Regions from separate parts of the Homo sapiens genome. Here all the other regions are reported to be linked to region 2. The links are microRNA targets in miRTarBase. Many come from high-throughput screens and were not tested one by one. Region 2 holds a microRNA gene; each other region holds the end of a gene's coding sequence.

Evidence for each region. Region 2 holds the annotated microRNA hsa-miR-30a-5p (UGUAAACAUCCUCGACUGGAAG, at 1,225-1,246, shown strand). A microRNA usually pairs through its seed, bases 2 to 8, with sites in the 3' UTR of a target mRNA and lowers its output. Matches are read on the target gene's strand: a 7mer-m8 pairs with bases 2 to 8, a 7mer-A1 pairs with bases 2 to 7 and ends in A, and an 8mer does both.
Region 1: the mRNA of SLC12A2 is a reported target of hsa-miR-30a-5p. The part of its 3' UTR that is shown has no 7-base or 8-base seed match.
Region 3: the mRNA of ZFPL1 is a reported target of hsa-miR-30a-5p. The part of its 3' UTR that is shown has no 7-base or 8-base seed match.

Annotation. Positions count from the first base shown.
Region 1 is chr5:128,186,223-128,190,281 of GRCh38, forward strand. It overlaps SLC12A2 (solute carrier family 12 member 2), which reads left to right. Exons shown (of 27, transcript NM_001046.3): 27 at 274-3,455. The coding sequence ends at 409. Among named protein-coding and RNA genes, the nearest start is that of SLC12A2, 100 kb to the left of the region's middle.
Region 2 is chr6:71,400,774-71,404,840 of GRCh38, reverse strand. It overlaps MIR30A (microRNA 30a), which reads left to right and starts at 1,220; the gene lies at 1,220-1,290. RefSeq lists an enhancer at 2,224-2,752.
Region 3 is chr11:65,087,445-65,091,503 of GRCh38, forward strand. ZFPL1 (zinc finger protein like 1) reads left to right here. Exons shown (of 8, transcript NM_006782.4): 8 at 484-954. The coding sequence ends at 670. It overlaps CATSPERH (catsper channel auxiliary subunit eta), which reads right to left and starts at 1,666. Exons shown (of 3, transcript NM_001282448.2): 1 at 1,414-1,666; 2 at 1,207-1,306; 3 at 932-1,087. The coding sequence starts at 1,587. The coding sequence ends at 1,011. RefSeq lists a silencer at 2,452-2,624.

The DNA of each region.
Region 1 (4,059 bases), not on the chromosome of region 2:
ATACCATCTAGGTTTGTGTAAGTACTCCTGTGATGTTTTCACGAGGGCAAAATTGCCTGACAGTAAGTTCTGAGAAATGCGTCTCCATCGCTAAGCAACACAACTGTGGTTGTTATTCTATTTGCAGAATTCTCCTGCACTCAGAAATATTCTGTAATTATAGTAATTTACAGTAACTGTTATTGTAATCTACTTTATAATTTTTGCTACATTTTATTCTGTAAATGCATTGCTCAGGGTTTTTTTTTTTTCTTTTTCTCTTTTTGATACCAGGAGTCTCCCAGTTGCACGAAAAGGTGCTGTGTCTAGTGCTCTCTACATGGCATGGTTAGAAGCTCTATCTAAGGACCTACCACCAATCCTCCTAGTTCGTGGGAATCATCAGAGTGTCCTTACCTTCTATTCATAAATGTTCTATACAGTGGACAGCCCTCCAGAATGGTACTTCAGTGCCTAGTGTAGTAACTGAAATCTTCAATGACACATTAACATCACAATGGCGAATGGTGACTTTTCTTTCACGATTTCATTAATTTGAAAGCACACAGGAAAGTTGCTCCATTGATAACGTGTATGGAGACTTCGGTTTTAGTCAATTCCATATCTCAATCTTAATGGTGATTCTTCTCTGTTGAACTGAAGTTTGTGAGAGTAGTTTTCCTTTGCTACTTGAATAGCAATAAAAGCGTGTTAACTTTTTGATTGATGAAAGAAGTACAAAAAGCCTTTAGCCTTGAGGTGCCTTCTGAAATTAACCAAATTTCATCCATATATCCTCTTTTATAAACTTATAGAATGTCAAACTTTGCCTTCAACTGTTTTTATTTCTAGTCTCTTCCACTTTAAAACAAAATGAACACTGCTTGTCTTCTTCCATTGACCATTTAGTGTTGAGTACTGTATGTGTTTTGTTAATTCTATAAAGGTATCTGTTAGATATTAAAGGTGAGAATTAGGGCAGGTTAATCAAAAATGGGGAAGGGGAAATGGTAACCAAAAAGTAACCCCATGGTAAGGTTTATATGAGTATATGTGAATATAGAGCTAGGAAAAAAAGCCCCCCCAAATACCTTTTTAACCCCTCTGATTGGCTATTATTACTATATTTATTATTATTTATTGAAACCTTAGGGAAGATTGAAGATTCATCCCATACTTCTATATACCATGCTTAAAAATCACGTCATTCTTTAAACAAAAATACTCAAGATCATTTATATTTATTTGGAGAGAAAACTGTCCTAATTTAGAATTTCCCTCAAATCTGAGGGACTTTTAAGAAATGCTAACAGATTTTTCTGGAGGAAATTTAGACAAAACAATGTCATTTAGTAGAATATTTCAGTATTTAAGTGGAATTTCAGTATACTGTACTATCCTTTATAAGTCATTAAAATAATGTTTCATCAAATGGTTAAATGGACCACTGGTTTCTTAGAGAAATGTTTTTAGGCTTAATTCATTCAATTGTCAAGTACACTTAGTCTTAATACACTCAGGTTTGAACAGATTATTCTGAATATTAAAATTTAATCCATTCTTAATATTTTAAAACTTTTGTTAAGAAAAACTGCCAGTTTGTGCTTTTGAAATGTCTGTTTTGACATCATAGTCTAGTAAAATTTTGACAGTGCATATGTACTGTTACTAAAAGCTTTATATGAAATTATTAATGTGAAGTTTTTCATTTATAATTCAAGGAAGGATTTCCTGAAAACATTTCAAGGGATTTATGTCTACATATTTGTGTGTGTGTGTGTATATATATGTAATATGCATACACAGATGCATATGTGTATATATAATGAAATTTATGTTGCTGGTATTTTGCATTTTAAAGTGATCAAGATTCATTAGGCAAACTTTGGTTTAAGTAAACATATGTTCAAAATCAGATTAACAGATACAGGTTTCATAGAGAACAAAGGTGATCATTTGAAGGGCATGCTGTAATTTCACACAATTTTCCAGTTCAAAAATGGAGAATACTTCGCCTAAAATACTGTTAAGTGGGTTAATTGATACAAGTTTCTGTGGTGGAAAATTTATGCAGGTTTTCACGAATCCTTTTTTTTTTTTTTTTTTTTTTTTGAGACGGAGTCTTGCTCTGTTGCCACGCTGGAATGCAGTAACGTGATCTTGGCTCACTGCGACCTCCACCTCCCCAGTTCAAGCGATTCTCCTGCCTCAGCCTCCCTAGTAGCTGGGACTACGGGTGCACGCCACCATGCCCAGCTAATTTTTGTATTTTGAGTAGAGACAGGGTTTCACCGTGTTGGCTAGGATGGTGTCTATCTCTTGACCTTGTGATCCACCCGCCTCAGCCTCCCAGAGTGCTGGGATTACAGGTGCGAGCCACTGCGCCTGGCTGGTTTTCATGAATCTTGATAGACATCTATAACGTTATTATTTTCAGTGGTGTGCAGCATTTTTGCTTCATGAGTATGACCTAGGTATAGAGATCTGATAACTTGAATTCAGAATATTAAGAAAATGAAGTAACTGATTTTCTAAAAAAAAAAAAAAAAAAAATTTCTACATTATAACTCACAGCATTGTTCCATTGCAGGTTTTGCAATGTTTGGGGGTAAAGACAGTAGAAATATTATTCAGTAAACAATAATGTGTGAACTTTTAAGATGGATAATAGGGCATGGACTGAGTGCTGCTATCTTGAAATGTGCACAGGTACACTTACCTTTTTTTTTTTTTTTTTTAAGTTTTTCCCATTCAGGAAAACAACATTGTGATCTGTACTACAGGAACCAAATGTCATGCGTCATACATGTGGGTATAAAGTACATAAAATATATCTAACTATTCATAATGTGGGGTGGGTAATACTGTCTGTGAAATAATGTAAGAAGCTTTTCACTTAAAAAAAATGCATTACTTTCACTTAACACTAGACACCAGGTCGAAAATTTTCAAGGTTATAGTACTTATTTCAACAATTCTTAGAGATGCTAGCTAGTGTTGAAGCTAAAAATAGCTTTATTTATGCTGAATTGTGATTTTTTTATGCCAAATTTTTTTTAGTTCTAATCATTGATGATAGCTTGGAAATAAATAATTATGCCATGGCATTTGACAGTTCATTATTCCTATAAGAATTAAATTGAGTTTAGAGAGAATGGTGGTGTTGAGCTGATTATTAACAGTTACTGAAATCAAATATTTATTTGTTACATTATTCCATTTGTATTTTAGGTTTCCTTTTACATTCTTTTTATATGCATTCTGACATTACATATTTTTTAAGACTATGGAAATAATTTAAAGATTTAAGCTCTGGTGGATGATTATCTGCTAAGTAAGTCTGAAAATGTAATATTTTGATAATACTGTAATATACCTGTCACACAAATGCTTTTCTAATGTTTTAACCTTGAGTATTGCAGTTGCTGCTTTGTACAGAGGTTACTGCAATAAAGGAAGTGGATTCATTAAACCTATTTAATGTCCATTCTTATATCTGTTTAATAAGTCTTTGCCAGCTTTGTGGTTTTATCTCATTTCGATAACTATTGCTTCATTCATTTCTGAATTTTTAAAATAGCTTTTACCTTAATATTCACGCCCTGGAAAAGTCGTTCACTATTCTTAAACCTTTGCAATAATCACTGTTGATGCTCACAGTATGACTGAACCATCTGAGATGCAGCTCATTATGGTATTTTTTTAAGTGACCTAGCTTTTCTAATTCTGCTTTATCTTTGGGCCAGATCTCTCATTTGTGAATGAGGAAACTGGAAGATTAAAAGCGATTCATAGTCCCTGAATATAATCTGATTCTTTCCTTCCAAAGATTTTTGTCTAAGCTCATTTAGAGTTTTAGAAAGCATTTTCATTTTCTCATTTGAATATGACTGTAGGTGTGTATATATGCAGGACAGCTATTTCTTTTACTCTTGAGAAAGCAGCTTGGAGCAGTTTAGGGAGTTTTCCAAGGTCATGGGGTAAATCAAGGAAGGATATTGGTCTAGAGCCCAGGTCTTTTATCCCCAGGAATTTCTTTATTATGCATTCACTGCTGGCTGATCCATAAGATAGATGGCT
Region 2 (4,067 bases):
CTGATAAAGTTTGCTTTGTTCCCCTGTGTGACTTGACCCATTGAGAAAACTGGTTCCCTAGGAAGTTTTAATAGTTCAAAGTCCTTAGTTAATAAAGAAAAAGGCCACAACATAATTCAGCTTGTTTTCACCTGCTGACTCAAAGATTAACTTTTTTAACCTTAATGGGATAGAGTTACCCTTTGCTTTGAGAAAGTAATTTATGGAGTTCTTCATATTTGTTAGTTTCAGTAAACATGATGCTTTTTGTGTGGATTTTATTTTTGTTTCGGGTTTGAGATCACAAACTACTAAGACTTACACAATTTAAGAACCTTACGGTAACTTCATCTAAAAACAAATCTCAGGGAAAGGCACACCCACTTTTCTGTATCAACTTAATCTTTCACTAGATTCAGAATGGTTTTGAATTACTTCAGGAAAGTAGTGACTGATAGAGCTTAACCTTCAGTTTTCCTCATTTATTTTCATAAGAGAATGGGAGTGGAATTCAAAACATTCAAATTTGGAGTTAATGTGCGTCACTGTTGTGAGTGATAGGTTCTGTGTTTTTCCAGTGGGAAACTTTGATCCACATACTGATATATGCCTGTGTTATACCTCGTTATTCTTTTCTGTTTTTCTCCTGATTGTTGCTTACTCTTTCAAAAATCAGCTGACTGTACAAGTCCTCTCTGGGAGCAGACTTTAGAGCAAAAGTGATCTATAAAAGCAGCATGTAAGTCTTTTTTTTTTTTGTCAGAGTTTATAACTTTCCAAGTAGACCTTTTATATTTTCACGGTAGTCTAAGTTCACTCAACTGCAGTATTTGATGTTAAATGTACGCTTTACGCTGTTAAGATAATTTAGTTTCTGTGTTTGGTCACTTTTGCTTAAAGGATTGTAATTACATAATGCATGTTGAAATCATATTAAGTAACCTGGCCACTTGCCTATTTACTTCTTGTGGCTAACAATAATGAATGAAACCATTTATATATGTTGTTTTAGTATATCACAAAATTTTATAGAAACTAGAAGCTCGGTGATGAATAATAGACATCCATGAGCCTTCTTATTTGTTTTGAATTTGAGACATTTTCTAGAATATTGCTGTTTGAATGAGGCTTCAGTACTTTACAGAATCGTTGCCTGCACATCTTGGAAACACTTGCTGGGATTACTTCTTCAGGTTAACCCAACAGAAGGCTAAAGAAGGTATATTGCTGTTGACAGTGAGCGACTGTAAACATCCTCGACTGGAAGCTGTGAAGCCACAGATGGGCTTTCAGTCGGATGTTTGCAGCTGCCTACTGCCTCGGACTTCAAGGGGCTACTTTAGGAGCAATTATCTTGTTTACTAAAACTGAATACCTTGCTATCTCTTTGATACATTTTTACAAAGCTGAATTAAAATGGTATAAATTAAATCACTTTAAAACCATGTCTGTACATTTTTAGAGGGCTTCAGCAGGGCATTGAGGAGGTGCTCTGTGTATGCATAGAATTTGCAATATCAAAAAGAAAGTATTCGTAAGAGAAATGAGGAAATGTGTTACAGTATTTTTATTTTTTTTAAAAGCGTAGTAGGGCAATATTTCCCAGAAAAATCTATGAAGTGATTTGTTTTGTCCTGCCCTTTCTGCAGTTTCAAAATAGGTGTTTTTTAGACCCATTCACAAAAAAAAAATCCATTAATGAAACCACAATTATTTGGGGGAAAAAAGTAAGATGAAGGGTTAGTTATTTTCACATTACTTGGATTAAACCCCTTTTATTTCCTTATAGGCTTAGTGTTTAAGTAATAAAGTAGCAGCTCTCAGCTTAATAAAGTGTCTAAAACAAACAAATACTGATTCAACTAACTCTATTATTTGAAAAACCTATTCTTGTTTCAGATGATTAGAATAGTATTTTAGGAATTTGTGGATACTGTTTCCATTTGGTTGAACTTTTAACTTAGCTTTATGCAATAACTCATATCTCTTAAAAATAATAAATACATCAAATTCTATCCTAAATATATGAAGACAATTTTAAGATTCAGAATCCTGTAGAAGATTTCTGTGATGGACATAATTTCTAATTTTCCTTTTTTGTAAATGCGTATTTTTCTTATGGCGGATATTTTTAATATTATACACTTAAATAGAAATATTTAAGTGTATAAGAGAAATATTTAAGTGTATAATAGAAATATTAAGGATACACTTATATAGAAACTAGACACTTTAAAAAGATATGAAAGTGATATCTTTTGTCCTCTAAAACACAGTATTTTATAAATATATAGTGTTTCCATTAATGTAAAAGAGTTTCTTTTCCCTGTTTAATACCCATTGATGATGATGATAAAGAAGTGATACTAAAACAGTATGATCATACCACTATTTAAAATAGTAGCATTTCTTCTAATACCTGGGATGGAGAGAAATATGTGTTAGAAATGTCTTTAAGTTTCCCTCATACATAAAGCTATCAAAACTCTATTAGTCATGCTGGGCCATGAGAGGTTCATCAACTGCCACTGAAATGCAAGGGGCTTGGAGAGGCCTCTGCCAGGCCCTGGGTCTGGAACTGAGAATGTGGTCTATTTTAATTGGTAAGCTGAAAACCCCTGGAGCAAATAACTCGGCTGTTTTTCTGGGGTCACCCGACCGTATTTCCTAGGTAAATGACTATAGGTTTGAAGAAATGGTTAAACTTTTCCTAAATCTTTGACCTTCACTTTCTTTAGGTTCTCTTCCTATGTTATTTTATATCCTCTTCCTTACCTTACTGCCCCTAAATTTTCCATTTTTCATTTTTATCTGTTCATTTTGTTCATGTAAATAATTAGTTATGGGAACTTTTTAATTTGTAAAAATTACAGCATTTTTAATTATTTTTAAATCAACAAATACAAACCTCCATAAGCCATTCCGGGTAGTTTCAAAATTAATACCTAGTATTTCTTATGTCTTGTGCCCCACATTTCCACAGTAATAATGTAAACTACTATTTTAAAGTAACATCAACAGTCCAGGCACGGTGGCTTACGCCTGTAATCCCAGCACTTTAGGAGGCTGAGGCAGGTGGATCACTTGAGGTCAGGAGTTTGAGATCAATCTGAACAACATGGTGAAACCCTGTCTCCATTAAAAATACAAAAATTAGCTGGGTGTGGTGGCACGTGCCTGTAATCCCAGCTACTGAGGTGGCTGAGAATTGCTTGAACCTGAGAGGGAGAGGTTGTGGTGAGCCAAAATGGTGCCACTGAACTCCAGCCTGGGCGACAGAGCGAGCCTACCATCTCAAAAAAAATATATCTATATATATATATAGATATACATATAAATAAATAAAATAACATCAACAGTGTGTTATTCATAATTGAAATAAGATCTGGATGCAATTTTTTATTTTACAAAAAAAATAACTTCTAAAGTTTACAGTATTATGTTTCTACCACTACGTGGACAGAGTTACCATGCATGTGCTTAGGTAAGATAAACTAATATTTAACATAAATTAGAAACCCTTACTAATTGCTTTCATGTGTTTTTTTTCTTACTATAATTTTTAAAATTTCACATATCAGCATAATAAAATATCTATAAACTAAAACATAAAATTCTTAAAATGGACTGTAGTAAGTCAGTTACTGAAAATAAAACACTGTCAAAATGTGTTAGTTAAATGTAATGTGAGTGTTGCTATAAAGTTAGTAATGTTTAAAAAATAGCACCACACTGAGTAATCATCAAAAGTATTATACATTTAGTTTTTATTCATGATTTGCCAAAATAAAAATTGGCACATGCTTGAAAGGGAGATTTCTAAAGGAAGTTAAGAGCTTCTGAAAGTGTCAGTGGTGAATGATTTAAGTGATACTTATTTTTCCTGACCTTAAAACTCTGATTTGAACTTGCACTCCATTTTACAATGATGTTGTCTATAAATATTACACATGTATGAAGCCTTTCCTCTACTACAGAATAACTAAAACCAGACCAGAGGACTGTGGAGGCAAGGGAAATGCATTTGAAGGCCGTCTGCATGGGAATTAGTTACCTAGACCTGAGAAACCCCTTTCTATTTAGATTCC
Region 3 (4,059 bases), not on the chromosome of region 2:
CAGGCAGGGCGGAATGCCAGGAAGGGGTGGAGAGGGAATGGGAGCCAGAGGTCCTGGAAGGGATGGTTTCATGACAAAAGGGGCTTGTTCTGGGGAGTAACAGTACCTGGTGCTGGGGCTGTGCAGAGAGGCCTTGGCTGTGCAGCAGAAGCTGTGTTTTGCTTCTCTCTGGGACTGTCTCTATGCCTCCTACACAGGAGGTTTGAACTCAGGCTCTTTGAGGCCCCTTCCCGATCTGACACCCCCTAATCTTTGTAATTCTCCCCGACGTCTGACACACTGTGGTTTCCAGAATACAGTCGTGCGCCTCAGCTGGTTTGAGCTGCACAATAACGCCCTATGGTGGCAGGTGCAGGAGTGATCATCCCTGAGGCACAGACGAGGAGATGGAGGCTCAGGAATGGGTGGTGACCAGGGCTTCTCTCCAGCCGCGGGGGCCACCAGGGACTGGGGCCTGACCTGATTTTCCCCTCATCCCCCCAGGAGCCGGGCTGGGTCTCGGAAGCGGCCGCTGACCCTGCTCCAGCGGGCGGGGCTGCTGCTACTCTTGGGACTGCTGGGCTTCCTGGCCCTCCTTGCCCTCATGTCTCGCCTAGGCCGGGCCGCAGCTGACAGCGATCCCAACCTGGACCCACTCATGAACCCTCACATCCGCGTGGGCCCCTCCTGAGCCCCCTTGCTTGTGGCTAGGCCAGCCTAGGATGTGGGTTCTGTGGAGGAGAGGCGGGGTAATGGGGAGGCTGAGGGCACCTCTTCACTGCCCCTCTCCCTCAAGCCTAAGACACTAAGACCCCAGACCCAAAGCCAAGTCCACCAGAGTGGCTGCAGGCCAGGCCTGGAGTCCCCGTGGGTCAAGCATTTGTCTTGACTTGCTTTCCTCCCGGGTCTCCAGCCTCCGACCCCTCGCCCCATGAAGGAGCTGGCAGGTGGAAATAAACAACAACTTTATTAAAACACCCGAGGCAGCCTTTTGCTTCCCCCTCCTTAGCCCTGTTCCGACTCCCCAGGCCTCAGTGGTGCTCCTCCCGGTACTCGATGGCCAGAAACTCCAAGGACAGGCGGTTGAAGAACATGGCTCCGTTGAGCACTGGGCGGGGGACAGAGCCCCCCATGAGCCCCAGTACCCTTCCCTGGCTACTCCTTGCCACATCTCAGGGTTCCAAAGCTCCCCGCTCCCTCTTGCACCCTCCCACTCCTGCCACTCACTCAGGATGGTCAGGGCGGAGAAGCAGACGTACTTGTTTTCTGTCATCTCAGCATAGAGTGACCCCATGGCAGCCCAGCAGATGCTGATCACCTGGGAGAACTGTAGGCCCATCCAGTGGGAGAGTGGCCCCCTCGCACAACAGTGGGGTTTCCATCAGCCCCTCGGGTCTCCCACAGCCAGCCCTTGCGTCCCTGCCCTGAGCCTACCATCAGGACGACCGTGTAGTGAAAGCTCATGTGGTCATAGTGGTAGGTGATGCAGAAGTTGTGCACGTCTCTGATGAAGATGCCCAGGTGTAAGAAGAAGAGCATCAGCGCAGCCGTGGTGAGCATCATGCCTTTTGGGAAGAAGAACGTGGCGATGCGGTCTTGCAGCCACATCTTGCCCGCAGTGTAGATGCAAGTCAGACTTGAGAGCTGGAGCAAGCAGGCCCTGCCCAGGAAAAGCAGCAGAGTCTCTGGTTCTAAAGTGCCTGGTATGGAATAGCAGTGGGATTCTAGAACCAGGAGGACAGTGGAGGGGACAAGATTCTAGAACACAGGCTGATTCCAGCCAACACAGGAGTGCCTCACGGGTGGTAGGGGTGCTTTGAATTGTGAGATCAGTGGGGGCCCATGGCAATGGCGAAGGGGCAGCAGCCCTAGTTATCCCATACTCACTCTAGACGCTTTTATGCATGTCTCAAGTTTCCCAAAACGGAGGCAGTGTGAACACAGTCTACAGATGAAGAACTGGGGCTCAGAAAAGTTGAGGGGCGTGGTCTAGATTTACAGCAAGTCTTAGGCAGATGAGAGATGAGGACCCAGCTGCATAGCTGGAAGGCATTCCCAGGTGAGGGGAGGCCTGTATTTGCTCTACCCTCTGGTGGAGAGGAATTACGAGAAGGGAAGGATCAACAGATTCTTCAGAGCTGTCCCGGGACCTTCCCCGTGCCCTTCCCAGGTGTGGCCCAGAAGGCACCTGGCTTTTCCATTCTCTCCCAAGATGTTCTTACAGGACCTGATGCTGGTCAGCTTTCTGCTCCGCCACCTTCAGGTGCTTGGAGCATTTTCACCTCTGTCAGTCTAAGAGTCCCATGAGACAGCTGGGGCTGGTGGCATAAGTCCTATTTGACACTTGAGTCTGAGGCAGAGGGAGGATGGTCTTCCTCAAGCTGTTATAGCCAGTGAGGGAGAGAGTCAATACTGAAACGAAGATCCGATACTACCTGAGGCTGTGCTGAGTGAGCAGGGTCACATGCAAGCCAGGAGGAAGAAATCTCCTCCATGCATGTGAGAGATGAGAACTAGGCTGGGTGCGGTAGCTCACACCTGCAACCCCAGCACTTTCAGAGGCCCAGGTGGGAGGACTGTCTTGGGCCAGGAGTTCAAGACCAGCTTGGGAGACAGCAAGACCCCATCTCTCTCTTTTTTGAGATGTAGTTTCACTCTTGTTGCCCAGGCTGGAGTGCGATGGCGCGATCTCGGCTCACCGCAACCTCCGCCTCCTGGATTCAAGCGATTCTCCTACCTCAGCCTCCCAAGTAGGATTACAGGCATGTGCCACCACGCACAGCTAATTTTGTATTTTTAGTAGAGACAGGGTTTCTCCATGTTGGTCAGGCTGGTCTTGAACTCCCAACCTCAGGTGATCCGCCTGCCTTGGCCTCCCAAAGTGCTGGGATTACAGGTGTGAGCCACCGCTCCTGGCCAGCAAGACCCCATCTCTAAAAAAAAAAAAAAAAAAATTTGCTGAGTGTGGTGGTGTGTGCCTTTAGTCCCAGCTACTCAGGAGGCTGAGATGGGAGGATTGCTGGACCCCAGGAGTCCCAGGCTGCAGTGAACTATGATCATGCCACTGTACTCCAAGCTGGGTGACAGAGAAAAAAAGAAAAGAAAAGAAAAAGGTGAGAACTCCAGGGCCGTCAACAAAATATGCCAATAAAACAGCCAGAAATGGTGTGGAGTGACATGAAAGCTCCCAGGGATTGAAGCAGGAGAAGAGGAGGGAGGAGGAGAGGACTTGATTTCGAACTCAGCCACCCCACTGCCTCCTGCCCAACTGTTTGCCCCAAAAGTTAGGTCCCAGGTCAGCCCAAGACCCACAGGCTGCCTCCCAGCAGTGGGATTAGAGCCTGCACCCACCATCTGTGCTTGCTGCCCAGTCTCCAGACAAGCACAATAGTTCTTCAGAGCCCCATCCTAACCACATGAAAGGGGTAATGCCCCAAGGCCCAGCTGTGGTCCCACTGTTGAAACAATTGTTTGGACCTCAGTCCTCATTTGAATACAAATGAACTTTTATACATTAAAGTTCCTAGCTCCTAATTTTATTTTATTTTTGAGACAGAGTCTCACTCTATCGCGCAGACTGGAGTGCAGTGGCATGATCTCGGCCCACTGCAACCTCCGCCTCCCGGGTTCAAGTGATTCTCATGCCTCAGTCTCCCAAGTAGCCAGGATTACAGGCGCCTGCCACCATACCCAGCTAATTTTTGTATTTTCAGTAGACATGGTATTTCACTATGTTGGCCAGGCTGCTCTTGAACTCCTGACCTCAGGTGATCCACTCTCTTTGGCCTCCCAAAGTACTGGGATTAGAGGTGTGAGCCACTGTGCCTACCCCTAGCTCCTAATTTTTAAAAATTATATACATGTAATATATGAATATGGGCTGGGTGCGGTGGCTCACACCTGTAATCCCAGCACTTTGGGAGGCTGAGGCAGGCAAATGACCTGAGGACGGGAGTTTGAGACCAGTCTGAACAACATGGAGAAACCCTGTCTCTACTAAAAATATAAAATTAAGCTGGGCGCAGTGGCTCACGCTTGTAATCCCAGCACTTTGGGAGGCTGAGGCGGGCGGATCACGAG